4 linked regions of the Homo sapiens genome follow. The protein of the gene in region 1 interacts with the protein of each later gene in a biochemical or structural test. Each region holds a gene or a part of one and is shown in the gene's direction. Other genes may lie near its edges. The genes, in order: CRK, RAPGEF1, EGFR and ARHGAP32.

What was found.
Region 2: the proteins of CRK (region 1) and RAPGEF1 form a complex in vitro, tested with the Homo sapiens proteins (4 studies listed by BioGRID, with this or other methods).
Region 3: the proteins of CRK (region 1) and EGFR form a complex in vitro, tested with the Homo sapiens proteins (3 studies listed by BioGRID and IntAct, with this or other methods).
Region 4: the proteins of CRK (region 1) and ARHGAP32 form a complex in vitro, tested with the Homo sapiens proteins (2 studies listed by BioGRID and IntAct, with this or other methods).

Annotation. Positions count from the first base shown.
Region 1 is NC_000017.11:1,446,207-1,453,232, reverse strand, and holds part of CRK (adapter molecule crk), read left to right. Parts: intron 1-7,026. UniProt on the Homo sapiens protein: Involved in cell branching and adhesion mediated by BCAR1-CRK-RAPGEF1 signaling and activation of RAP1.
Region 2 is NC_000009.12:131,737,070-131,744,025, reverse strand, and holds the start of RAPGEF1 (rap guanine nucleotide exchange factor 1), read left to right. Parts: upstream 1-3,949; 5' UTR 3,950-4,195; coding exon 4,196-4,256; intron 4,257-6,578; exon of another isoform or gene 6,579-6,611; coding exon of another isoform or gene 6,612-6,621; intron 6,622-6,956. UniProt on the Homo sapiens protein: Guanine nucleotide-releasing protein that binds to SH3 domain of CRK and GRB2/ASH. Transduces signals from CRK to activate RAS. Involved in cell branching and adhesion mediated by BCAR1-CRK-RAPGEF1 signaling and activation of RAP1.
Region 3 is NC_000007.14:55,022,017-55,029,042, forward strand, and holds part of EGFR (epidermal growth factor receptor isoform a precursor), read left to right. Parts: intron 1-7,026. UniProt on the Homo sapiens protein: Receptor tyrosine kinase binding ligands of the EGF family and activating several signaling cascades to convert extracellular cues into appropriate cellular responses.
Region 4 is NC_000011.10:129,189,305-129,196,447, reverse strand, and holds the start of ARHGAP32 (rho GTPase-activating protein 32), read left to right. Parts: upstream 1-4,122; 5' UTR 4,123-4,249; coding exon 4,250-4,365; intron 4,366-7,143. UniProt on the Homo sapiens protein: GTPase-activating protein (GAP) promoting GTP hydrolysis on RHOA, CDC42 and RAC1 small GTPases. May be involved in the differentiation of neuronal cells during the formation of neurite extensions.

The DNA of each region.
Region 1 (7,026 bases):
GAGGAAAGACGGTGAAGATTGCCAAAGTTTATGGATGGGGTGTGGAAAATTCACGAGTATTGTGATAATTCTTTCTGCCATGTTGTACCCCATTTTCTACGATTCAGTTGCTGTCTTTTTCTCTCTTCTGAGACAGAGCCTCTGTCACCCAAGCTGGAGTGCAGTGGCATGAACACAGCTCACTGCAGCCTTGACCTCCTGGGCTCAAGCCATCCTCCCACTTCATCCTCCTGAGTAGCTGGGACTCCAGGCGTATCCACCATGCCTGGTTAACTGTTGAAAATTTTTTTGTAGAGATGAGGGGTCTCACGGTATTGTCCAGGCTGGTCTCAAATTCCTGATCTCAATAGACTTCATGCTTCAGGCTCCCAAAGTTTTGGAACTGCAGGTGTGAGCCACTGTGCCTGGTCAGTTGCTGTCTTTTTTTTTTTTTTTCTTTTTGAGACCGAGTTTTTACTCTTGTCTCCCACGCTGGAGCGCAATGGCGCGATATTGGCCCACTGCAACCTCTGCCTTCTAGGTTTAATCAATTCTCCTGCCTCAGCCTCCTGAGTAGCTGGAATTACAGGCGCCCACCACCATGCTCAGCTAATTTTTGTATTTTTTTAGTAGAGATGGGGTTTCACCATGTTGGCCAGGCTGGTCTCGAACTGCTGAACTCTGATCATCCACCCACCTCGGCCTCCCAAAGTGCTGGGATTACAGACGTGAGCCACCAGCGCCTGGCCTGTCTGTATAACCTCAGAATTACTTTGTACCTCACAAATCTCAAGTACTAAGTACTGAATCTTTGTTCTCCCCCTCACCAAGTCCTTTTGAAGTCACACAGAGAAATTTCTTGAATTTTTTAGAGAGGCGTATAGAATATTAATAACTAATGTTTATTGACTGGTTATTCTGTGCCAGGTACTTTGAGTACTTTATGTACCTTATTTCACTTACTGTCTAGGACAATCTAGTGAGATAAGTAATATGATCTCCATTTATTAAAATATTCCCATTTTATACAGGAGGAAACACTCATAGATTCAGTAACTTGCTTAAGGTCACACAACTAATAAATGACTTTCAGAAGTTGAACCTAGGCATTCTGACCTGAGAGCTGACCCTTTTACACTACACTCTCAAAGCCAGCGTTCTTTTGGCATCTCAGCAGTGCACATAGAGGTCCGTATCCTCAATATCCTCAATACTTTGCCTCTGCCCTGGAGTCTAAGACTTGGTGTTTTTTGTTTTGTTGTTTTTGGATGGAGTTTCGCTCTTGCCCCCCGGGCTGCTACAGTGCAGTGGTGCAGTCTCGGCTCACTGAAACCTCTGCTTCCCAGGTTCAAGTGATTCTCCTGCCTCAGCCTCCCGAGTAGCTGGGATTACAGGCATGTGCCACTGTGCCCAGCTAATTTTTTTTTTTGTATTTTTAGTAGACACGGGGTTTCACCATGTTGGCCAGGCTGGTCTCGAACTCCTGACCTCAGGTGATCCGCCCACCTCGGCCTTGTGTTTTTTGTTTTTTTTTCCCCCCACTATGTTGCCCAAACTGGAGTGCAGTGGCTGTTGACAGGCACAGTCATAGTGCACTACAGCCCTTAACTTTGGGGCAGGCAGCCCTTCTGACTCAGGCTGTGAGTAGCTGGGACTACAGGCACATACAGCCGCATCCAGCCCAGGTTTTTTAAAGACCAGAATTAAAGAATGGCAAGAAGAGGCCGGGCGCAGTGGCTCATGCCTGTAATTCCAGCACTTTGAGAGGCCAAGGAGGGTGGATCACTTGAGGTCAAGAGTTCGAGACCAGCCTGGCCAACATGGTGAAACCTTGTTTCTACTAAAAAATACAAAAATTAGCTGGGCGTGGTGGCGGACGCCTGTAATCCTAGCTGCTGGAGAGGCTAAGGCACGAGAATCGCTTGAACCCCGGAGGCAGAGGTTGCAGTGAGCTGAGATCGTGCCACTGGCTTTATTATTCAGACAATACACATCTGCTATCTAAAGTCAATGATGAAGAAGCTTTTTAAAATTGTTATTGCTTTTTTTTTTTTTTTTTTTGAGACAGTTTCTCGCTCTGTCACCGAGGCTGGAGTATAGTGGCACGACCTCGGCTCACTGCAAGCTCCGCCCCGTGGGGTTCATGCCATTCTCCTACCTCAGCCTCCCGAGTAGCTGGGACTACAGGCGCCCGCCACCACGCCCGGCTAATTTTTTGTATTTTTAGTGGAGATGGGGTTTCACCGTGTTAGCCAGGATGGTCTCGATCTCCTGACCTTGTGATCTGCCTGCCTCGGCCTCCTAAAGTGCTGGGATTACAGGTGTGAGCCACCGCGCCCGGCCTATTTGTTTTGTTTTGTTTTGTTTGAGAGGGAGTTTCGCTCTTGTTGCCCCGTCTGGAGTGCAGTGGCGCGATCTCAGCTCACTGTACCCTCCACCTCCTGGGTTCAAGCAGTTCTCCTGCCTTAGTCTCCCAAATAGCTGGGATTACAGGCATGCGCCACCATGCCCAGCCAATTTTTTTGTATTTTTAGTACAGACGGGGTTTTGCCACGTTGTCCAGGCTGGTCTTGAACTCCTGGCCTCAAGTGATCCGCTCGCCTCGGCTTCCCCAAAGTGCTGGGATTACAGGTGTGAGCCATCGCATCTAGCCTACAGAGTATATTTTGTTTACACAGTGCATAGGTGAAAATTATATGGAATGGCTTAGGTGTCATTTTTATGTGTTTTTTTTCTTTTTTTGAGACAGAATCTCGCTCTGTCGCCCACGCCGGGCCGGAGGGCAGTGGCGCGATCTCGGCTCACTGAAAGCTCCGCCTGCCGGGTTCACGTCATTCTCCTCCCTCAGCCTCCTGAGCAGCTGGGACTACAGGCGCCCGCCACTATGCCCGGCTAATTTTTTGTATTTTTAGTAGAGAGGTGTTTCACCGTGTTAGCCAGGATGGTCTTGAGCTCCTGACCTCGTGATCCGCCCACCTTGGCCTCCCAAAGTGCTGGGATTACAGGCCTGAGCCACCGCGCCTTATTTTTTAAACTTTATTTATGTTTTGAGACAGAGTCTTGCTCTGTTGCCCAGGCTGGAGTGCAGTGGGACGATCTCAGCTCACTGCAACCTCCCCCTCCCGGGTCAAGCCATTCTCCTGCCTCAGCCTCTTGAGTAGGTAGCTGGGATTACAGGCATGCGCCACCACTCCCAGCTAATTTTTTTGTATTTTTAGTAGAGATGGGGGTTTCACCATGTTGGCCAGGCTGGTCTCGATCTCCTGACCTCAAGTAATCCACCTGCCTTGACCTCCCAAAGTGTTAGGATTACAGGCGTGAGCCACCGTGCGCAGCTGGGTATTATTTTTAAAGGCATGGGTACAGAATGGGCCAGTGATTCTCAGCCTTTTCCGTTGAACCTGTTTTTAACTTGTCTTGGGTCCTCAGCTTGCATAGGCTTCCTGTGGTGCCATAGCTTGGGAGTTCCCTGGGGCCATAAGGAAGGGCTTGGCCAAGTCTACTGGTCACATTCTGTCAGGTTGGGCTTCAAGATGGACCTCCTTGGAATGCTTGCAAGAAACTAGTTTTTTTTCTCTTGAACAGCTAAACCTTTCAGGTTGACACAGCTGAAGGAGTGTGAGTTAGGAGAGTCGTTATAAGCTTGAGCTGTGGATCCTGGGTTGGGCCTTATTTACCTACCACTTACTGCTTGTGTAACTTTGGGCAAATTGTTTAACTTTTCCCTGCTTCAGTTTCCTCATCTGTGAAGGAGGGAAATAGTAATACTGATCTCATAGGGTTGTTGGAATGATACTCCATATTCAGTACTGGCATACTAAGTACTCCATAAGCATTTCATGTATACGAATCTTAATAACATAACTGAGGTGTGGGGGCTTTTGAAGCAAAATGGAAAACTTCTTATCTTTGAGAGGCTGTGGAATTCATGCTGTGGATGGTAGGAACTGGTGAAACAGTTTGTCTTGGGGAGTAGGTGCCTGGGTGGAGTGCATCCGTAAGTGTGAAAGGACCTCGGGTCCAGCACTTGGAAATAAGATGGTGCCTCCTGTTACCTGCTCATCCGACCTGTTGCGCTAGTGGGTGGAGGGGGGCATAAAACGTGCTTCATTTTGAAGGCGTGGGACAGAAGCTAGGGTGGTAATAGTTTGTGATACTCCCTCGAGGTAGTGAAGAGCTACATGCCAGGCTGGCAGCTGGGCCAAGCCACTTCTGGAGGTAGCGTGAGACTGCTGATGGCCCTGTTGCTCAGGCTGGTGTGCAGTGGCTCCGTCATAGCTCACTACAGCCTCACTGTATGACCCAGGCTGGGCTTGCACTCCTGGCCTCAACAGATGTCTCCCTAAAGATTGGTTAATCAGTTTTTAAAAATAGAGAAAAAAATAAAGAGATCCTCCTGCCTCAGCCTCCCAAAGTGCTGAGATTACAGGTGTGAGCCACCGCACCTGCCTGACCACAGAACTTTTGAGAAGCATCTTGAGATCCTGTGGAATTTTCTCTGGGAAACGGTCCAGTGGGCTCTGGATTTGAGGATGAATTGAAAATTGCTGAAGGAATTTGGAGAATTGGTTGCTTTTTATTGAGCACCTATAATGTACGAGCCACTTTTTCTTTTTTTTTTTTTTTTTTTTTTGAGATGGAGTCTTGCTCTCACCCAGGCTGGAGTGCAATGGCATATTCTCGGCTCACTGCAAGCTCTGCCTCCCAGGTTCAGGCAGTTCTCCTGCCTCAGCCTCCCCAGCAGCTGGGACTACAGGCGTGCACCACCATGCCCAGCTAATTTTTGCATTTTTAGTAGAGATGGGTTTCACCATGTTGATCAGGCTGGTCTTGAACTCCTGACCTCAGTGATTTGCCTGGCTCTGCCACCCAAAGTACTGGGATTACAGGCGTGAACCCCCACGCCCAGCCTCTAGCCACTTTAGGAACTTTATTTATTAGATAGGTATTTGACCCCATTTTGCAGAGTCGGGGGTGAGGCACACAGAAGTTAGGTAACTCAGACAGCTAGAAAATGAGAGCCACAATGCACCAAACCTGCAAAGGACCGTCCTCATACCCACCATCTTTAGAACATTCTATTTGCTTAGGAGACCATATATCTTCTCAGATGGAAACCAGTGGCCTTCTGTCGCCCAGGCTGGAGTGCAGTGGCGCGATCTCTGCTCACTGCAAGTTCCGCCTCCCGGGTTCAAGCGATTCTCCTGCCTCAGCCTCCCGAGCCAGTGGCCTTTTTAGCGTTTTGTATTGGTGGGTATTTATCTAAGCAACCCCTGTAAATACCACAGGCAGAGAAGGAAGGGAGGGAGCAAGAATTGAGGAAAAAAGGGAAAAGAGGGCCGGGTGTGGTGGCTCGCGCCTGTAATCCCAGCACTTTGGGAGGCTGAGGCTGGCTGATCACTTGAGGTCAGGAGTTCGAGACCAGCCTGGCCAACATGGCAAAACCCTGTCTTTCCTAAAAATACAAGAATTAGCCAGGTGTGGTGGTGGGCGCCTGTAATCCCAGCTACTCGAGAGGCTAAGGAAGGGAGAATTGCTTGAACCCAGGAGGCAGGAGGCAGAGGTTGCAGTGAGCTGAGATCGCACCACTGTACTCCAGCCTGGGCAACAGAGGGAGACTCCGTCTCAAAAAAAAAAAAAAAAAAAGGAAAAGAGAAAGTGCTGTGAGATCAAGGAGAGCCTGGCCCGCTCTTGTAGACCCGTCAGAAGTGATTGGGCCTATTTTAGCCCACAGAGCCCTCAGGTGTTCTTCATGAAACCTTCAGGGAGGGAGTGGCCTTGTAAAAATGGTCGTAACCTGAGGCTTGAAATGCTTGGAAGGCTTAGAAGTAACGGGCTGAGCAGGTACCGAGAAGCTGAAAGGATATCCTCTCCTTGCATTGATTTTGATTTCCGTTTGTGTGACTTCCTAACTCCACGTTCAGAATCCAGCACAGGGTGATGTAGAACAAGTCATTGAGGTTTTCCAAGTCCCAGATAGCTATGAGAATCCTGTCGTTGCTTCTGTTCTCTAGACTGGCTGACTGTGCCTCCTTCCTTTCCCGCCCTTCTATTTCCTGCCTTTGGCTGTTTGTGGTTGGAAGGAGAGGAAAGAGAGAAAAGGAGCCGGAACACACAGCCATGGTGAGGTTTGGGCTTATCTGGGACTTATGTGTGTTCTGTTCTCCTCCCTTCCTTCTGGAGTTTGGATCAATGAAGCTTGATGGCCCCCAGCAGTTCACAGAAACGGGCATTTCTCTGTGAAATTATTACAGTGTCAGAATAGAAAAATAATTTATAAGTAAAGTACATCAAAGGTTTTCCGTGGCGTTTTGCTTACGTTTCTGTGTCTATTGGGATTGCCAAACAAAAAGAAAGTCACGGCCGGGCGTGGTGGCTCACGCCTGTAATCCCAGCACTTTGGGAGGCCGAGGCGGGCGGATCACGAGGTCAGGAGATCGAGACCATCCTGGTTAACACGGTGAAACCCCGTCTCTACTAGAAATACAGAAAAAAAAACCCGGGCGTGGTGGCGGGCACCTGTAGTCCCAGCTGCTCGGGAGGCTGAGGCAGGAGAATGGCGTGAACCCAGGAAGCGGAGCTTGCAGTGAGCCGAGATGGCGCCACTGCAGTCCAGCCTAGGCGAAAGAGCGAGACTCCGCCTCAAAAAAAAAAAAAAAAAAAGTCATAGTGAGCCCAGTTCACGCTATTGTGGCATTTGACCAAGAAGAGAATTAAACCTGCTTCCTACCTTTGCGCCAGATGATCTGCCAAGTTTTCTCTCACTCATCTTTCAGAGCGACTTGGCTTAGTAGTCTCATTTGTTCTTTCCCCGCCAAAATGTATTTCGCTCGGCCTGCTATGGTAACAGTGGCTGGCAGGGGGTGGTTACCTTCCTTCTTCCAGTGGAGAGAGTACCTTGGAAGTGTTCACAGATGGTCGTAGTTGCTCATGGCGATTCTGTTGTATCTCAGGACACAGTGCGTTATTCCAACTGTCTTTAGCAGGAACATAGATCCAGGTGAAGGTGAAAGCCGGGTGGGAGGTTGTCTTCCTAAGACGTGCCGC
Region 2 (6,956 bases), on another chromosome or scaffold:
CCCTTCCCTCTGCTGGAGTTGGTGCTGCCGCAGTACAAGAGCCCGGCATGACCCCTTGTCTTAATAGGGCTTTATTTTCTGTTATCTTACAATTTATTTTGTTTTCAGACACAGGTCTCACTCTATTGCCCAGGCTGGAGTGCAGTAGCTATTCATAGGTGTGATCATAGCACCCTACAGGCTTGAACTCCTAGGCTCAAGTGATTCTCTTGCTTCAGCTTCCTGAGATGCTAGGCTGTTCCACAGCCTCTGCTCCCAAGTTTTCTCACAATTGGCACAATTCCTAGGCTGGCCAAGTCACATATTCTACCCCATTCCTGCAGTCATTGGCCTGGGGATAGACGTGTGACTCAAACTGAGCTAATTAGACTCTGCCATGGGGCTCTCTTTGAAACAATGAGGAAAGAGATCCTCTTTGTCCATTGGGGTTGTTAAGCAGGCAGGTGACAGGCCCAGGACTGCTGGTGCCCAGCTTCACCCTTTGCTACCTTGTAGAGAAAGATGACCTGAGAAGGGAACCAACATAGAGGACCAATGGCCTTGTTCCAGAGCCTGGGTTAGCTGCATTTGGACCTAATTGTACACCTGGTTTACTAATTATGATCTTCAAAAAATGCCCTTCTTGCTGTAAGCAATAGCAGAGCTAGGTTTCTGAGAGTGAAATCAAGTTTCCTAATCAGTACAGGAGGATGGCCCTGTTGGGGCGTGTCAGGGAAGCATTCTCCATAGAAGTGACAGTGAAACTAAGAAGCAAAAGATGACTGGGACCAGCCAAGTGGAGAGGAGGGGAGGGAACATTCTAGACAGCAGGAGCAGCTCATGAGAAGGTTCCAAGTCAGCCAGAACTGGGCTTTGGGAATCCGTTTGCTTCATTACCTTGTGTGTGTTCTACTATAGTTATAAACATCTTTGATGAATAGCCTTTATTAAGTAAGTTCTGTGACCCTGATTTACCATAATGTCCATTTGCAAAGTACTTTGTTGTTTGCAAATCTTTTGTCATTGGATATGTCATAATTTATTAAATATATTTGTGTTCTCACAAACCCCTGACTGCACCTAGTATCCATGCAGTCTAGTTTTCTACTTTTCAACCAGGATTTTGGATTTAAAATATCGGCTCTTCTCAGCTCAGAAGCCTAGAAGGGTTGGGGGCAGCATTGAGTGTGTTTTGGGGTTGGGCCTGGGACCAGGGGCCAGTTTTGCCTGGTAAGGCATCTGCCAAGAGGGCTGAACAGGGCCACCCTGGATCAGAGCATCCATTCATCAGGTGGAAGAGGGAAATGAATTTGTCAATCTTTGGATTTGCCTTTGACCTCTAGAGGGCTGCAACTGATGAAATGATGATGGGAAATTTGGCTGCCATCTATGACCATCTCCTTTTTTTTTTTTTTAAAGAGGGAGTCTCGCTCTGTCACCCAGGCTGGAGTGCAGTGGCGCGATCTTGGCTCCCTGCAACCTCTGCCTCCCAGGTTCAAGTGATTCTCGTGCCTCAGCCTCCTGAGTAGCTGGGACTACCAGCGCGCACCACCACGCCCGGCTATTTTTTGTATTTTTAGTAGAGATGGGGTTTCACCATGTTGGCCAGGCTGGTCTCGAACTCCTGAACTCAGGTGATCTACCCACCTCGGCCTCCCAAAGTGCTGGGATTACAGGTGTGAGCCACCACACCCGGCCTGACTAGCTCTTAGTTGTGGAATCGGTGACCCTTTAGACTGTCCAGGGAGATGGGAATAAGAATCTCTCACAACATTAGCAGTTTTTCCTCCTCCCTGCACCTCCCCCAAATCCTGTCCCCATCACTAGGTTATTTAATTTACTTATTTTGGGGGAAACAGGAGGGAAAACTAGCCCAGGTGGTGCGTGCTACTTCTTTGTATTCCATCTTAGACTAACAACAGGAAGCAGGCAGCAGAATTGCCCCACATTGGAACATCACTTGCGTTACTAATTTGTTGTTATTTACTACTTGTATTATAGGATTTAACTTTGACTTCCCAGCTAAGTTGTGAACTCTTTGGAGGGAAGCACCAATTGTGCCCACTTTTGTAGGGCCCACAGAACCCGAAATAGTGCTTAGACTTAGCAGATCCTTTGATTCTTAAATGACTTTTTTTTTCCTTTTTTTTTTTTTTTTTTTTAGCCAGGGTCTTCCTCTGTCACTCAGGCTGGAGTGCAGTGGTGCAATCATGACTCCCTGAAACCTCTGCCTCCAGGGCTCAAGTGATTCTCCCTCATCAGCCTCTCAAGTAACTGGGACTACAGGCAGGTGCCGCCGTGCCTGGCTAATTTTTGTATTTTTAGTAGAGACGGAGTTTCACACATTGCCCAGGCTGGTCTCGAACCCCTGGGCTCAAGTCATCCACCCACCTCAGCCTCCCAAAGTGCTGTGATTGCAGCCGTGAGCCACTGTGCCCAACCACGACTTTTTTTTTTTTTTTGAGACGGAGTCTCGCTCTGGAGCCACCAGGCTGGAGTACAGTGGCATGATCTCGGTTCACTGCAACCTCCATGTCCTGGGTTCAAGAGATTCTCCTGCCTCAGCCTCCCAAGTAGCTGGGACTACAGGCGTGTGCCACCATGCCCACCTAATTTTTGTATTTTTAGTAGAGATGGGGTTTCACCATGTTGGCCAGGATGGTCTCAATCTCTTGACCTCGTGATCCACCTGCCTCGGCCTCCCAAAGTGCTGGGATTACAGGCGTGAGCCACCGTGCCCAGCCACGACTTTTAATGAACTCATTTCCACACTAGAAAAGTTCCACAGCTGAGCCCCAGGGTGCCCTTCTGGATGTCAAATAAGCAGGGCAGGCAGGGTGTGCTGTGTCCCTGAGGGAGTTGGGCCCAGGCCAGCATGGAGGCTCTAGGCCTCAGGGGACATTTAGGCCTGAGTAGGGCCAACCCCAGCCCGGGACAGGTGGCTCTCGCTGGCAGGGTGACTGAGTCCCACATGCAGGGCTGGGGTGGAGAATGAATCCTCCGCCTTGGCATAGACCTTGGGCCAGCAGAGGGCTTTCATGCCAGAGTGGACTCATTCCCCGGCTGGAGCCTCTGGGCTGGCAGGAGGTGCTATGAGGCCACTCCCAGGCCCTGGTGTGGGGTCTCCAATTAAGAAGGGGGTGCGGGCAGGGTGCAGTGGTTCACACCTGTAATCCCAGCACTTTGGGAGGCCAAGGTGGGTGGATCATGAGGTCAGAAGATCGAGACCAGCCTGGCCAACATGGCGAAACCCCGTTTCTACTAAAAATACAAAAATTAGCTGGGCATGGTGGCATGTGCCTGTAATCCCAGCTACTCAGGAGGCTGAGGCAGGAGAATTGCTTGAACCCGGCAGGCAGAGGTTGCAGTGAGTCGAGATCGCGCCACTGCTCTCCAGCCTGGCGACAAAGTGAGACTCGGTCTCAAAAACAAAAAACAAAACAAAAAAGGGGGTGCTGCATCTCTGGTTTGGGGGAGGTCAGGACAGGCTCCCAGCCAGCAGAGCTTGTTGAGTCCTGGTGAGAGTGAGTTCTAGGCCCTGGTGTGGAGCCTCTGGCCCACAGGGGATGCTGGGTCCGGGATGATGCTAGGGTGGGGTGGGCGTCAGTTCCACGTCCTGGGGTGGAAAATCTGACCCAGGAGGGTTCTCTGTGTCTCTGGTGAGGGGGCAGGCCAGGCTCTTGGGCAACCGAGGACCCTGGGTTGGAGCTGTCAGTCCCAGGTCTGGAGCTGGTGACTCTGGTCCCACAGCAGAGGAATGCGGAGTCCCAGGCGGGGTCGGCCCCACACCCCAGGCCCCAGGCCCCGGCGTGGGGACTCCGGCTCGGCAGGGGGCGCTGCGTCTCGCGCGTCGCGCGGGAGGCTCGGGCGGCTCCGGGCCCACAGGGGGCGCTGTGGCGGCGCGGCGGGCGCCCGGCAGGTGGCGCTGTGGCCGTGGCCGCGGCCGAGGCCCGGCGGGCGGGCGGGCGGCGTCGCTGCGCTGCGGCCGGCTCGCGGGCCGGGGGAGCGGCGGCGGGCGCGCGGGAGGCGGAGCGGCGGCGGCGGGCGCGGCGGGAGCGGCTGGGCCCGGGCGGGCTGGAGCGCGGTCGCCGAGCGCAGGGCCGCGGCCGCGCGGAGCCCGCCATGCCGGCGCGGGTCTGAGGCGTGGCGAGCCAGGGCCGAGGCGAGCGGCGGGCGCGCCGCCCCTGTCGCCCCGCGGCGGCCCGGCCCGGGCCCGATGAGCGGCGGCCTCGGCCTCCGGCGCAGCCCGGAAATGTCCGGCAAGATCGAGAAAGCAGGTGAGGCGCGGGCGTGGGGCGGCTCCCTCCGGCCGGGCCCGGCCCTGGGGCTCCGCCGCTCCCCGGGCCGAGCGCGGGTCGCCCGGGATGTGCGGCCCTCCGTGCGCCGGGGCGGGGTGAAGCCACCGAGGCCTCGCCGGGGCGCCTGGCAGCTTCTCCTCCAGGCCCATTGCCTGCCGGGCGCGGGGGGAAGCGGCCGCTGCGGGGGCGCCAGGGGCCGGGCCGGGCGGGGCCCCTGCAACCCGGGGCCGGGCGCGCTAGCCGCTCCGCGGTCCCCGGGAACTTCCGAAAATGGCTCGAGCCCCAAGCAGGGGAAGAACAGCCCGGGCCGCGTGCTGCTGCGGCTGCAGCGATCGGTGCCCGGCCTGGGCTCGGCGCTAGGAGGGTGAACCCAGCTGAGCTGTAAAATGTGTCATTTCTAACGAGCTTCGAGTTTAACGAGAAGCGTCCACTTCGGTTGCTTCAAAGGAAGCAGGCTGGATGAGTGGGGGTATTTTGAGGAGGTAGTCAAGTTTCCCCTCCCCACCCCGATCAAGCTCAGCTCTGCAAGGAGGGCAGGTGGGGGACCGGTGGGTTGGAGTAGATGGTAAATCTTGATGCAGACCTCGTCTCTTTGTGTGTTCCTAGAAATCTGGGGGAGTTACCTTCCGAGTCCCTGGGTTTGCCTGTCCTGGAAATAGAGTCTCCAAAGATTCAATGACTGTCGAGCCTGTGGGGCCCCAGGCTTTATTAGCCTGCAGCACCTTGCAGGGCAAATGCGAATTCTTGGGTCTAAGGTGAAGTGGGCGGGTGCTCCTGGGCTCCTGTACTGGGAGCATGCCCTGTGGTCATAACCCCGGTAGCAGGTTAGCTTGGCGGCTGAATGAGGGAAAGCAGATTTTTAGGGAGCTGCAAAGGAGGTCTGTGGCTTTGATTGTGGAAGTTGCTTATGTTTCCTGGGTTGAATCTGGGATACTTCTGTGGGGTGCACCCCTGCAGCGGACCCACAAGGCAATATGACTTTTGCAGGCTGTGGTTGAAGCACAGAAGGACATTTTTGTAGGCTTTATTGAGGGTTTACTATATATCTAACTCTTAGCACCTAAAATGCATTGCTTCTTAAATTTTTGAAGCTAGTCTGTGGGAAAGAATATGGTCCCAGTTTTACAGGCTCAGAGAGGTTCAGTGAGTTCCGGCTGTCCAGACAGCAAGAGGGCGGCAGGCCCCTAGTATATTCATTCCTGGCCCTCTGACCAGAAGCCAGGGTGCTTTTCTCAGGGGCAGGGCGCTTGGGTTCAGGTGCCATTTCTTGAGTATTTTTCTCACTGAATTTGAGCCCCCACAGCCTTGCCGAGTGACCATGAGTCGCCATCCTGTACACCTGCTGCTCCAGAAATAACTTGGGTTCATCTGTGCAGCATTTCTCAGGAACTTCTTGTATAGTGTCTTGTCAGAACGGTACTGTTGGGAAACTTGGATAATTTATTTTAAAAAGAACATTCACTGAGTTCTTTTATAAGAACTTTATAATATATAAGATTATATTATATCTTTTTATATCTAATATAAGATTATATTATGTTTTATATCTTTATAATATAAGAATATTCTATGTTCATTGTCAAAACTTGGAAATCACAGAAAAGTAAAATGAACCGGATTGGAAATCATCTGTCAGCCAGGTACAGTGGCTCACGCCTGTAATCCCTGCATTTTGGAAGGCCAAGGCAGGAGGATCACTTGAGCCCAGGAGTTTGAAACAAGCCTGGGCAAAATGGCGAGACCTCATTGCTACTTTAAAAAAAATTTTTTTTTTTTTTTTTGAGACGGAGTCTTGCTCTGTTGCCCAGGCTGGAGTGCAGTGGTGCGATCTCGGCTCACTGCAAGCTCCGCCTCCTCCTGGGTTCACGCCATTCTCCTGCCTCAGCCTCCCGAGTAGCTGGGACTGCAGGCGCCTGCCACCACGCCTGGCAAATTTTTTTGTATTTTTAGTAGAGACAGGGTTTCACCGTGTTAGCCAATATGGTCTCGATCTCCTGACCTCGTGATCCGCCCACCTCGGCCTCCCAAAGTGTTGGGATTACATGCGTGAGCCACCGCGCTGGGCCTCTTTTTTTAAAAAAAGGAAAAAGTTGCCTGTCATCCCATGAGCTGCCCAAACCGCTGGGAATGAAATGACTCTTCATTTGAGTTCTCTGCTATTTGGGAGAAAGACCTGAGGCCAGTTCATTTCAGCATAGTTTGTCCTTGGGCCTTTTCTGGGCACCGCCTTCTGCTAGGGGGTTGTAGATGAAAGTGCCTGCTCCCAGAGAAGCTTGTCTAACCTAGCACAGTTTCTAAGCTACCCAGGCTGCCAGACCGAGCGACCGTGCTGCCATGGACACAGGTGAGAGAGGGGTGTCATGAGTGCGGGAATGAGGAAGACACTGGAGGGGACAGTGTTTGTGCTAGGCTCTGAAGAGAGGGCTGAGATATATACCTGGTGGAGACAGGGAGAAAGAGGAGAGAGGGGAAGGGGCTGACCAGGAGCTGCGGAAAGTGTGGGAGGAAGATGCATTTTGTGAGAAGCAGAAAAAGTAAGAGTTCTGAGATTGGCAAGACCAGGGTCAGGACCTCGCCTGCAGATTGGGGATTGCAGATGTGGAGCTGGCTGGAAGTCCAGCCTCCTTGCAGAAGGTCTTTTGCTGCAGTTCATAGGAATCATAGTGAAAGATTACAACT
Region 3 (7,026 bases), on another chromosome or scaffold:
GCAAGGGGAAAGGGCCCAGGGAGCCGGCTCATGACGATGAGCCTGTCTGAAGCTTCAACGCGGGCTGTCCGGCAGTCTGCATTCCTGCCGAGTTCCTCAGCCCTCTGTTGGGTCACCTTCCATAGAGGCAGCTTAGTCCTCAGTTCAGTGAGCATGGAGTGGAGACTGCTTGAGGGGTGCTGAGCAAAGCCCTGCCTCTTACAGGATGAAGGTGCTCTCCAGAAGGGACACTGGAAAGTATTCCAAGGCGAGTCGAATTCCCAACTGAGGGAGCTTTGTGGAAATAAGCCCGCCCAGCCCCACTTCTGGAGACGTTCCCATTCAGTAGGTCCGAGCTGTCTTAAAGAGAAACCAAAGTGGGGATATTAATGGTATCCAAAGTGAGATCTACCCCACCCTCCCTCCTCAAAGGAGGTCAGATCAAGAAAGCCCAAGCCCGGCCTGGCAATTGGGACCTTTCTTCTCACTCCAGCCCAGGGTGAAGGTGGACAAGTCACTTTGACCCTTCAGGCTTCTGAGCTGTTGTTTCTGAATTCAGTGAATATTTACTGAGTGCATAGAATATGCTAGATATTCTGGGCTAAAGGTTGAAGGGGGGGTGAGTTTTAAGGGTTTCTGCTCTTGCTTCCAGATTGCTTTCAAATCTGGAAAGGACACCAGTGGTTTGTGTGTTAGACCCACACTGCCGTAGCACAGAATACAAGAAACTGGCTGAGAGCTCCAATAGGCTTTTAACAGTAATTTCTGGCTTCACGTATTTAGTTTCATAACTCATGATTTTTCAAAAACTTCTGGTTTGAAGACACCGATTGCCGAAAGTCCATTGTGCTGCATAATTACACTTGGTCCACGTGACAGCACTAACATGTTCTGAAATGTTTTTAGAAGTAGTCTCAGCAAAGATGAAGGATTCCTCCCTGTTTGAAAAGAAAATATTCTTTGTTTTTTCTTTGATCTAAGCTCTAAGACTAGCAGCTAGCATCTGAAACTTTTTTGACGAGAGTGACAAACCAACTCTAATATTAAAGGCAATTGATGATTATGGGCACTGAAGGGAAGGTAACCCCAGGCTGGTGCCCCGGAATAGGGATGGGTCACAATGTTGAGGACATTTCGCCTGTTGCAGAACCCACCTGCAACACAGTGTGGCCCTTGCCATGTGACTTGTGTGTGTGCCTGTGTGTCTGTGTGTGCGTGTTTTAATTTTGACTTCATAAGTACTCTAGTTATGAGCTTATTTAACATTGGGTTTTACTAATAGGGGTATGTGTTGAGAAAATTTCAAAGTTTTAGAATATGGTTCACCCACATGTTGCTTCCCTGTAAATATAATTTTTAAAACCAGATTCTGGGCCGGGCATGGTGGCTCACCTCTATAATCCCAAAACGTTGGGAGGCCGAGGCAGGCGAATCATGAAGCCAGGAGTTTGAGACCAGGCTGACCAACACGGTGAAACCCAGTCTCTACTAAAAATACAAAAAAAATTAGCTGGGCGTGGTGGCAGGTGCCTGTAATCCCAGCTACTCAGGAGGCTGAGGCAGGAGAATTGCTTGAACCCAGGAGGCAGAGGTTGCAGTGAGCCAAGATCGCACCATTGCACTCCAGCCCGCGCGACAGTGTGAGACTCCATCTCAAAAAAAAAAAAAAAAAAACAGATTCTGTTCCTCAGATCCATTCCATTTTTGTTTTCCTTTATCACTTATGGACATTTGAAATTATGGTAATAAACATTGTTAGTCTCAGTTAATTATTACTGGTTTATTCTTGAACCACTAATCCATAGAGAATAGAGTGTAAATCTTAACTTGTTCCTGTAGGCCATCCCCATTAAACATCATAGTGTTTTCTCATTCGTTCTTTTTCGTTTTCCTCCTACAGGAATGAATTTTCTAAGAAAATTCCAGCAGTTGGCTCTTTGGACGACATCTCTAGATTGTCCTCCATTGGGCCCATAGGCACAAGCTGGCCAGTTTGAATTTGGGCAAGAATCCAGGCATTGGAACTTATTCAAATAACTAGTTTGCCTGTAATTTTCACTTTTTCAGAGTCATCTGATAAAGCTTTCTTGCTACACATTTAGATAGATACACTCAATCCAGTTGTCTAGAAAGTTCCCTGAGCCAGCTGGGAGCAGGAGGGGTAGTTGGGGCCAGGAATATTGGGGGTGTGTTTACTGAGCCCCTAGAAAGTAAGTGCTAGATTTGACATTTCAATCCCTGAAGGCCCTGAAGTTCAGTATCAAATGACTGGTCCTGTGGACTGAGCATCTGTGAATTGCATATGCTTAGAGTAAATTTTACTCCTACCAGTTTCAGCAGCTTGCTTTAGCAAGCAGTATGGAAACACTAACATGGGGGAGTAGAATTTCTCTCTCTGATCCAAGTTTTATCTCATTCTGGTGGGTTTTCAAGGAGAGACTCGGAGTCCAAGTGTCCTTTCTGAATATATCTGGAACTTCTCATTAACAAAAGACTCAAGTTATAATTTAGGGGACAAGGCACCCAATGAGAATGCCTTGCAGGCAGCCCTAAGTACACCTGCAATTACACCATTACTAGCGCGGCAGCACACATGGCCCTGACTTAGTTTAAATAATTACGTAAGTCAACCATGATTGTTTGCCCTTTGCATAGAAGGGCAAGTATTGGTACCTGTTACAACTTAGGCTTTTTTTTCTTTATGTTTGAGCCATGATGAGTGATTTACACTGTTGCATCCATATGTTGAGATGTAAGAATAAATTAGACTTGGTAATTGCCCTTAAGTGTCTGGAAGTCAACTGGGGAAAGAGAGCTAGAGATAATAAGTGTGAAACAATGTCACAGAATCAATGACGGAACTCTTCCCAGGACAAAGGATGACTTTTGAGTTCAGTCTTTGCCTTTAATTCTACATGGGGAGGAGAGCACGTTTAGCCACAAATGGAAGGGATTACTCATTTGAGCTATTTGGTTATATGATTATTTCCCCAGAGAATAGGATGTGCAGGGCATTACACAAGCAGTGCCAATAGCAGCAAAGTTCTTGAGAGTGCTAGTAATTCAAATGGCAGGAAGAGAAGGAATAAATGGTAAGGCTACCTACAGTTCACAGAGAGCTCCATCCTCACTGTGGCTTTGGATTTTGTCCTGTGTGAAAGAGAAGTGACTGTGAACTGACATGCTGTGTTTGGTGTTTTAGAAAGATGGCTGCAGCAGCGGTTTGGGGAATGGACTGCAGGAGTGGCATTGGAAACAGGAAGGTTCATGACTATTGCCAGAGACAGAGGATGAAGCAGGAGCAAGGAAGATTCAGGACAGGGGACTCCGGGGCTGATCAGGAGGCAGAACTGGTTGATAAGTATATGTAGCAGCATAAGAAAGAAAGAATCCCAGATTGACACCCAGGCTTCTCACTTGGAAGCCTGGATAGATACTGAATGCAATCACAAAGGCTGGGAAGTCAATGGGACTGCAGGGAAGGGAAGGGAAGGGAGGAGAAGAGGAAGGGCAGGAGGGTCCAATATCAATATTCAGCTTTTAGATGTGTTGAGCTTGAAGTGCTCAGATGGAGAAGTCCAGGAGGCAGTAGAATACGGTGGTCCAGAGCACAGGAGAGCAATGTGGCTTGAGTTGTCATTTGCTCACATATTTCCGTGTCAGTTACTTGTCTTAGATCACAGAACAAGTTCTCCTCTCACAGTTTCCTGGCTCCACCTGTCTCATGCTCACCGTCAGCATCGAAATTGAGCCACACCAGGGGTTCTGGATACCAGCTTCTCTCTAGGTGAGGCTGCTATAGTCAGCAGCTGATTAGTTGCAGTTATCAGCAACTGGTAATATAATATATTGTGCATATAAGTGTACCAGAAGTCATGTTTATATATTGCTGCAAATACTCGGAATGGGGATCTCTTGTTCCCTGCTTAAGACCACATCACATTACTTGGTTTTGTACGCTAGTGGCTGAACCAAAAAAAGTAGGAGATGATTTTTTTTCTTTTTTCTTAAAGCAGTAGCTTTTGAACCTTGACCATGCTTTCTAACCAGCTGAGGGGCTTTTGAAAAAGAGGGTGCCTTACTGTGCCCCAGACCAGGACAATCAGTATTTCTGGGGAATGGAGCCTGGCACACACACATTTCTTAAAGCTCCCTTGGCAATTCTGAGGAGTGGATTACATGTTGTATGTAGCTCGTAACGAAAGAAATCTTGTCTTTGCTCTCAGACCCCCATTTCTTACTCATCTCATGAGCTCCTTCGAGATCCAGAAACAGTTGCATATTTCATTAGTAAATCAGTTCCAGAGTCACATTTTATTTCACAAGTTAGTCCATTAAAAGTTTCCTGCAGTGAGGAAATAGCCAGAAAGAACACTCCACCCCTCCTCCTTTTTATAACTATAGGGTCTGGCTCGACAGAGCAGGAGCATCGCCATCTTGGACAAGCCCCTCATTCTAAAGTTCACCTTAATAAAAAACTGCCTAAATTCAAACTGCATCAGCCTAATGGCTAAGGTCAGCATGACCATAAACCACAAATAACATCTCCAACCGGAAACATTCGAAACTCCTCCTCGACCAGAGACATGCTAGTCCCGAGATAACCCCCCTCCAGCAGGGAAGATGCCAGTCTCGGGATAACCTCTCTCTGGCCGGAAAGATGCCTGCCCCAAGATAAACTTGCCTCCTCCCAGAGATATTCCAACCCTGCCATAAAACTTCTCCCTCAAACAGGAACATTCCAAAATTCTGATAATCTCCCTCACCCTAAAACCAATATATACTCCTAGTCTGTAAGAGAAAGCGCTCTTGACCAAAATTCACCAGGAGTGCCTCCCAGGTTTTAACTAAAGAAAACCTCTCTTTAACTGCCAAAAAAAAAAAGGGAAAAAAAAAAGCTTTCTGCAGTGGCTTTCAGCGGGCCCAGCATGGCAGCAGCACCTGAGAACCTGTTGGAGATGCACACTCTTGGACCCCACCCTGGCCTCTGAGTAAGACACTGGAAGGGCAGGCCCCGGTCTGTGCACACAAGTCCTCAGGGAGATTCTGACTGATGCATGCCAGATTTTGAGAACTGCTGATATACTCCAGGCACATCGCATGCTGGGATCTAGATACACCAAGGGAACAAAATAACTGCACTTGTCCTCTGAGGACCGACTTACCTTTTGGAAGGGCTGAGAAAGAGAGACACATACAAGATCACTCCCTGTAATGCAATGTTTTATAACAGATGTGATTTGGGATTTCAGTGGGAGCCCAAAAGAGGGACTGACTAATTCAGCCTCTGTGACAAGGGGAGTTTCTCAGAAACAGAATGCTTAGCTGGGCCTCCAGGCACAGGGACAGGAATGAGGAAATACTTGTAGGCCCTGTGCTCCTTCAGCAAAACCCTCAGTTTCTTGTTATTTTTATAAATGCAAACATCTTATTAAAGTAGATGCTAAGGCATTAGAATTTCCTGCTTTATTTTTCTAAATGACCATGAGGAAACCTGGAATGTCAAAGATAAAGTGCAACACATTCTGCATTTAAAAATTAAAATGATCCTTTTTAAAAGTAGCAACCAGATGTGAAAAATTGGACTGGAGTCCAGGTTATAGTTGATAGCTTTAACTTTCTCCCCAACAGCAACAGCACAATTTTCCCTAAAATGTGTTATGAATAAGTAAAATGACTACTTCACATCCTTTAACTCTTCCTACAGAAATCTAAGAGAGAAATGAAACAAAAGTTTGCACAGTTCTAGACACGATAAATACATGTGAAATCACACAACTCAGAAAATGTCCCTTAAATTAATTGAGCCATTGGTACTTGTGAATTAGAAGAGACATCTATGTTCTGATCCACTGTTGAAAGCTGTACAATGTTACCTATTTATTTGCAGACATCCTTTGGAAACAAATAGGTAGATTTGCAACAAATAAAGAGTGGAGTACAGCTGCTGACATTACCTTGTATATTCATGCCTTTATGTAAAAAAAAAAAAAAAAATATATATATATATATATATATATATATATATATACACACACACACACATATGGAGGTAAAGACCACTGCTTGCTTTGCAGTTGTTTTAAGAGCATTCATGAAGGATTTTATTTTATAAGCAGAAATGTGATATCTGACGATTTTACCACTACATGCTTGCAGGCCAGTGCACAGCAGATGACGTCATGATTGTTTTAGCAGTCCTATCGTTTTACTTATGATGTCATTACAACCCTTTGCTAAAATTTCTTTCCTTTACTCCAGGTTTTGGATAAAATTGATGCATTGCACATAGTCTCTCTGATAAGACAAACTGGCATTTGTATGTGAAAAACTGTGCATGTTTTAGTGTCTCTGCTGATACTCAAATTATCCATTATTTTAGTGCTGGAATAAAAACAAACCACTTAGTGAATTTGTGCAGGTCCTTAAGGACAGGCAAAGGTGTCCTGAGATTTTCTGATCATTGTATACCAAATTTTAGAAACTTTTTCAAAAACATTTTTTTAATTTCAAAAACCTGGTTTTGTTTATTTACCAGCAATCATTGAATACCTGAAAGCTTTCAGGAGATTTTATTACAATGGTTTCTATTCACTTACAAAATTATCTCCTAGTTCATTCTCATACACTGTAAGCCATTGTAAATGCTTCAAATTGTGCCGAACAAGATAAACTAGACAAACTATTTTAAGTTTGTTCTAGTGCTAACTTGCAAGATCTAATGGCTCCAACTAGATTTTTAAAATAAAGTATATTTTAATATATTATTAGAAAGTTAAGCAATTATCTGTTTATAGGTAACAAAAACCCTGGAACCCCAATGTCAGATGTCATCCACTTTTGATTAAGTCCAAACATATGACAGATAAACAAAAGATGGTTGGCTGGGCTCAGTGGCTCATGCCTGTAATCTCAGCACTTTCAGAGGCCGAGGCGGGCGGATCACAAGGTCAGGAGTTTGAGACTTGCCTGACCAACATGGTGAAACCCGCCTCTACTAAAAATACAAAAAAAACAGCTGGGTGCGGTGGCACGTGCCTGTAGTCC
Region 4 (7,143 bases), on another chromosome or scaffold:
TCTAGATCACTTATAATAACTATCAATGTAAATGTTATGTAAATAGTTGGCATACAGTATTGTTTAGGGAATAATGACAAGAAGAAGCCTGTACATGTTCAATACAGATAGGACCATCCCTCTTTTTTCCCTGAGTATTTTTGATTCAACCAAGAGGTTGAATTCATGGATGCAGAACCCATGCATACGGAACCTGTGGGCCAACTCTGTTGCTGTGATTATTACTACTTACCACTGCTACTAGGAAAGTCAGCACTTTTAACAATGTTTCTCTTCGAAAAAATTCATTCTGACTTGCAGTGTTTAAATTGTTGCTGTAAGAATGCTTCTCTCTTTGCTGCTGTGGGATTAGCTATTTCCCTTCCCCTCAGGTTCCCTACCTCTTGGAGGTAGAAGATGAGAACCAGCTAGTTCGAAATTACTGCTGGTGACTCCTGTGGTTTCAGTCAAAGACTTCAGCTCCATAAAAGCTTGTTGGGAAAGTGAAGGCTGATCAGGGTTTAAACAAATCAGGAAGAAAAGGAGTTAAAACCACCTTGTGGTCTTCAGCAGTATCTAGTCTCTCTCACACACTGGTAGCCAGAGTGATGGACTCGGCTGTGTTCCATCCCTGCCCCCGCTGTTAACCATCACCTGTTGATTCCGCTGGATTTTCATTTACTACTGGAGAAGGGAACAGAAAACAGAAACACATGTAGGTTTTGAATTTAAAAACTTTTTTTCCTTTTTTTTTGAGACGGAGGTTCGCTCTTGTCTTCCAGGCTGGAGCGCAATGGCGTGATCTCGGCTCACAGCAACCTCCAGCCGAGGCGGGTGGATCACTTGAGGTCAGGAGTTTGTGACCACCCTGGCCAACATGGTGAAACCTCTTCTCTACTAAAAATAAAAAATTAGGCGGGTGTGGTGGCGGGTGCCTGTAATCCCAGCTACTCGGGAAGCTGAGGCAGGAAAAACATTTTTAAAAAACTTGTGATGGCAGAGTCAAAACAGAACAAGCCTCGGAAGATGTGCACATTTAACTGTCCTTCAGTATTCTGTGTAAAAATACCACTCACAGTTCACGTTTTCACTTTTGAAAGGCTCGAAGTGAGGGAAATCAACCATCATAATGAAAGAACAAAAGAATGATTAAAAGAAAAGGTGAATAGGATTCATGAAAACGCTTTGAGGCCGGGCACAGTAGCTCATACCTGTAATCCCAGCACTTTGGGAGGCAGAGGCAGGCAGATCACTTGAGATCAGGAGTTCGAGACCAGCCTGGCCAACATGGTGAAACCCCATCTCTACTAAAAATACAACAACAACAACAAAAATTAGCAGGTGTCGTGGCACACACTTATAATCCCAGCTGCTTGGGAGGCTGAGGCAGGAGGATTGCCTGAACTGGGAGGTGGAGGTTGCAGTGAGTCGAGATCGTGCCACTGCACTCCAGCCTAGGTGACAGAACAAGACCCTGTTTCAACAAACAAACAAAACAAAACAAAACAACCCCCCCCCCCACAAAAAAACAACACTTTGAAGGAGTTAGAGTTGTTTAGAAAAAAAAGAACTAGATTCTTAATGAAATAATATTTAAAAATCCAATTCTTTACTGAAGGTCATGAAAGATTCTATTTAAAATTAGTTAATATTTTGGTAAGGATTATATGTGCATGACATAGTGAAAAACTATCTTTCTTTCTTCTTTTTTTTTTGAGACGGAGTTTCACTCTTGTTGCCCAGGCTGGAGTGCAATGGCGTGATCTCGGCTCACTGCAACAATCTCCACCTCCCGGGTTCAAGCGTGTCTTTCTTTTATTCCTCTTCTCCAGCTGTCTGTTTTCCTCCGTGGAGACAACTACTGGTACTAGTACTGATCCTCTTCTTCCATAGATAGTCTGCATTTGTTTCTCCTAACTCCTCATTGAAAACACAGATGGCAGCATAGCATACTGCACATACTGCCCTATACTTTTACCCCTTTCTTCTTTGCCTTAACAGTATTCCTTAGGCTTTGTTCCGTATTGTGACCTGTAGGGCTGCCTTGTTTTCTCATATACTCACTGTGTAGCATTCCATTCTATGGGTATTCTGTAATTTGCCTAGTTTTCTATTCCTCAGGAAGTTAGGTTGTTTTTGCTATCCTATTTTGCTACTATAATGTCTACCAGAATGAATGTTCCTGTTTGCCTCTTACTTCTACTTGTGAAAGTGAGATAATTTCCTAAAAGAGAAATTGCTGGGCCAAAAAGATGTGCATTTTGAATTTTGGTAGATTTTGCTAAATTGCCCTGAACACAGGTTGTACCAGTTTAAACTCCCACTGACAGGCATGTTTCTTTTCCCATGTCCTCTTTCAGTTTGTTAAAACCTTTTAAAAGCTTTGCCTATGTGATAGATTTTTTAAAAGTCATCTTATTATGTATTGTTTTACATTTCTGTTATCAGTGAAGTTACTTTTAACATCTTTTAAGTTTCTTTTATGTTTATCTCTGAGTATTATATTTTTGCTCTTTGCCTATTTATCTTTTGAGCTCTTGGGTCTTAGAAGTTTTTAAGAACTTTTTATATATTAAATAAATTAACCCTTTGTGATATGTTTCAAATATTTTTTTCTCAACTTGTTTGCATTTTGACTTTGCTTATAATGTTGTTCTGTTGTTTTTGGTTTAAAAAATTTTTTTTGAAAAGTTTTTAAAATTTATATATGTATTATATGTATTATATAATATATATTATATATAATATATAATATATAATATATATTATATATTATATAATATATATTATATATTATATATAATATATATTGTATATGTATTATATAACATATATTATATATATTATATAACATATATTATATATTATATATAACATATATTATATAATATATATATATTATATATAATATATATATATTATATATAATATATATATTATATGCTCTAGGGACCTGCATATATATATATTTTTTTTTTTTTTTTTTTGAGACAGGGTCTTGCTGTGTTGCCCAGGCTGGAGTGCAGTGGCGTGATTATGGCTCACAACAGCCTTGAACTCCCAGGCTCAGGCGATCCTCCCACCTCAGCCTGTTGAGTAGCTGGGACTACAGGGTGCACCACCACACTTGGCTGTTTCCCGCCCCCCCCCCCCCCCCCCCATAAAGATGAGGTCTCGCTAAGTTGCCCAGGTTGGTCTTGAACTCTTGAGCTCAAGTGATGCATCCACCTCAGCCTCTCAAAGTGTTGGGATTACAGGCGTGAGCCACTGTGCTTGGCTCTTTATTTTTCAAATATGAAAATTCAAGAAGACTTCAGTAGATGTCTTCTTAATTTTTGATTAAATCAGATACAGTGGAAAGTCAGGGCTTTGCAGTTTGTTGCTGCTTGGTAAAAGACAAATAGCCATGAATATCCAGCAGGTCAGTAGTTTCTGTCAACATGGCTCTTTTCTAAGTAACAGTTGTGTTGTTGACAGTCATAGATGCTATACCTTTCACTCATTTCCCAGCAAGTCATTTTATTGCCACCATGACTGTTTGCAGTTTAAATGTGTAAAACTTTGCATGCTTTTATTTGATGTGATTGTCAGCATCTTTGAACTTGGGACACTTAAACTTTTTTCTTTCAAGGACTGTGGACAAGCCCAGCTTTTATGTCTCACTCTGGATACTTGAGCAGAGATGCATATGGCAGTCCTTACTGAGAGGAAGGAAAGATGGGTGTAATATTGGAAGGCATGAACCTAGGCAGGTCCCTAGAGCATACTTATCTTCTCTACTTATTGTGAGCCTCCTTAACTGTGAGATCTATAACTGTGCTTCTCATGTGCTTGGCCAGTGGATGGTGTTATTCTTTCTAGTTTTCTATTTACCTTTCTGGAGTCCGAGATCAAAAAAGGATACAAATAAAGCCTGCATTTTGAAAATACCTATTTTTAACTTATTAAGTGGAAACTTTGAGAAGAGTCATTATTACAGAATAATTAGTAAAAAATCACCTTCATTTAGATTCTGCTTTTGGTTATGTAGGTCACGCAGCCTAAGGCAGTGGGAGGGTCTAGGTGTCACCAGTATGGCAGTCAGACGCAGTGACTGTGCTGCCTGTGATTTCCTGTCTGTACCCTGACTGTAATTAAACCAGCACCAGTACCTGTCACTAGGGCACCAGACACACATCTGAGTATACATGAGTAGAGCTGAACAACCTGAATGTTGGTGCTTTTTATTCCATGCCTGGAGGTTTAGTTTTTTTTGTTTTTTAAGTACAAGATGGAGACTGAAAGTGAGAGTAGCACTTTAGGGGATGACAGTGTCTTCTGGTTGGAGTCTGAAGTTATAATCCAGGTGACTGACTGTGAAGAGGAAGAAAGGGAAGAGAAGTTCAGGTGATTATGGAATTCACAGTTCCTTTGTCCTGTCCACTCCCTACCCCCACCCGCACCCCTTTTTCTTCTCTGCATTTCGGTCTTTTTTCCAATAAGACTTTCTGTTTTCTGGGGGAAGGTTTGGAGCTCAAGGGAGCAGGTTTTGAGTTGTATATAGCACTCCTCATTCCACAACTTGCCCTGAACTTGTAAAATGCATTTTAAAGGACTTGTTAGAACGCCAGGAGGAGAAGGTGTTAGACAGGTTTTGTAGTAGCCTTTCAGGAATTTCAAGTAGACACTCATAATGAACTACTACCCCTTCCTGTATCTGATTTGTATCAAATAGATTTGATCTGAATTTGTATCTAATAGATTTTTCTTCCTCTTTTTCTTGGAATGTGGTGTGTGTGTGTGTGTGTGTGTGTGTGTGCGTGCCTGCCTGCCTGCCTGCTTTGTTTGCCTTATGCATGGGTATGAAAAATTCCGATTAAGTACAGATTGGTTATTTTGTGGCTTTGATCTTTACCCTTGTCTCTGATCTTGTATCTCATGCCCCCTTTCCCCCAAATCTCTCTTGGTTTTTGAATCTCTGGTAGTATTAGTAACTTCATAATTGAAGTTTTTAGAGGATGCCTCCTGATGAAGCAGCTCTCAGTTTAGTGTCTGTGGTGAAGAAAGATGTCTTAACCAGTTTGTGAAAACAGAACCAATGTTTCATTCATTCTGTTGTACTGTTGCAAATTTTAGGGGGCTTTATTCTGGCTTTTCTTTTTCTTTCAGAGTTAGCGATGTAATACCTTTGAGTATCACAAAAATCTCTTGATGAAGTTTGAAGTTTGTTGCTGCATATTATCACTGCCACTCACATGTGCAATTAAACATCTTTTATAAGTTTACCTATGAGAACTTGGATAGGTGAATATACTGTTTTCATCAGATACTGTCTTTGTGTTTAATGCTGAAAAAGAGTTTCTCCTTTTCTCGAGTCAAAGGATTTCTTTATCCACAAATTTTATTTTTTAAAGTCTAGGTTAAATGATGGAAGGGATTGAATATTGGGAACTCTTGATAACCCTCACTAAATTTTTTACTCTGGGGTTCAAATAAATGAGAAGTATATTTAAAATTTTAAAAGAATAATTTTCAGAGTATAAAAATGAATTATTAGCATATGATTATTTTTTGTCTGAACTTTTGTCTCATTTTCCCATAATTTTATCTAGCCTTTCAAATTTGAGTAAGTCCCTTCCCTTCCAAGGTATGCTAATTGTTAGTCACATGTTCTGCTTTTTAATATGGTTTGTGTCTTGCTAACAATGAGTAGGACTGAAGTATTTGTTTTGCTTGTAATAAAACTTTTTGACCTGGTATTCAAATTATGGAAGTTATTTGGGTATTTGTCAAAGGAAGAAACAACTTGGAACTTATTTCATTGTTGTTTTTATAACAGATTTGGTACTGTAATCCTAGATTTACTTGTAAGGCAGTGGGCGTCTCTCTGGGATTTTCTTTTGACAGTTAAAAGCAAATTTGTGTAAGGATGAGCTCTTCTTTTCCTTGGGAGTATGTGACAGCATTTTCACTCTGAGAAACTGAGCTAGTGATGTGTTGTTTAAGGAAACTATGATACCATAGGGCATTTCTCTTCTGTTTATATTTCCTATCTGAATAGCACCATGGCTCTCCTAAATCAATTATATCTTTGTGATTTGATCTGATTTTATTTACAAATGTAACAAAGAGGTCTGGGCAAGGCCCAATTTCATGTAGTGTCTCTCACGCATTCAGCAGTGAGGCATGAGGAAATGTGGCAGCAGAGTGGTTTCACAACCTCGTGGTGGTGTTCCTGCCGAGATGCCCTACAGGAAAATGGAGGCATGGGTGTGGAAGGGGAAGGGTCGGATAGGAGTTGCAGCTGTAACCTTGGGAGGACCAAATAGTAGACTCAGTGTGGTATGACAGTTGTTTTTGTAAAATCAATGTAATAATTTTAAAAATGTCTTACTGTGTTTTTATAAAAATCTCTGCAAATACATGTGACATCAAGCTGTCGTATTGGTTACATTTCCATTCACATACACACACATAGCTGAGATGAGGGCAAAAGATTGTGCACTTTTCTTTTTCCCTGAATAGCTTGTAAACTACATTTTAAATGCACTCTTAAAAGCCTGCTCTTGTGTAACTTAAGGCACCATGGCTAAGAGAGTAAAGTCATACCACACCTAGAATGTAGGCTTCTGGTGCTTCCAGGTGCCATCTGCTTTAGGAGGAAGTAGTCTCAGAGACAAGTTAATGTTTGTCCAGTAGCTTTTGAAATAGCATTTATTTTTGGACTCAGTTGGAGGAAAGGATCCTTTTTATTAACACTCTTTCACTATGGGAAGTTGCCGGTCTCCTTCATGGTGGTAGTTTAAATTTGTCTGCCATTGACTCACAGATCTTTCATTTTCTGATTTCTTATTTGTAGTCGGTATTATTACCTACCTTGTCACTGTGGTAAAATAGTTATTAGACTAGAATATTTAGTCCTTAGAATAAAATAGTTCCTAGAGATGATTAGAAAAATCCATCCCTGGATAAGAAGGAGGAATATAAGGCAGAAAAGGAAAAACATAAATGTTTTAATTCTATCAAGAAAGAAAAACTTTACTTAGAAATTGTTATATGTAATGTACTAGGCCATATATATGCTTTATACAGTGTATCAGTTAACTGCTTATCACTCCTATAAAGCAGGTATCATTTTTCCTATTTCCTCGGTGAGGAATTTATGGCTCAGAGAGTCACACAGCC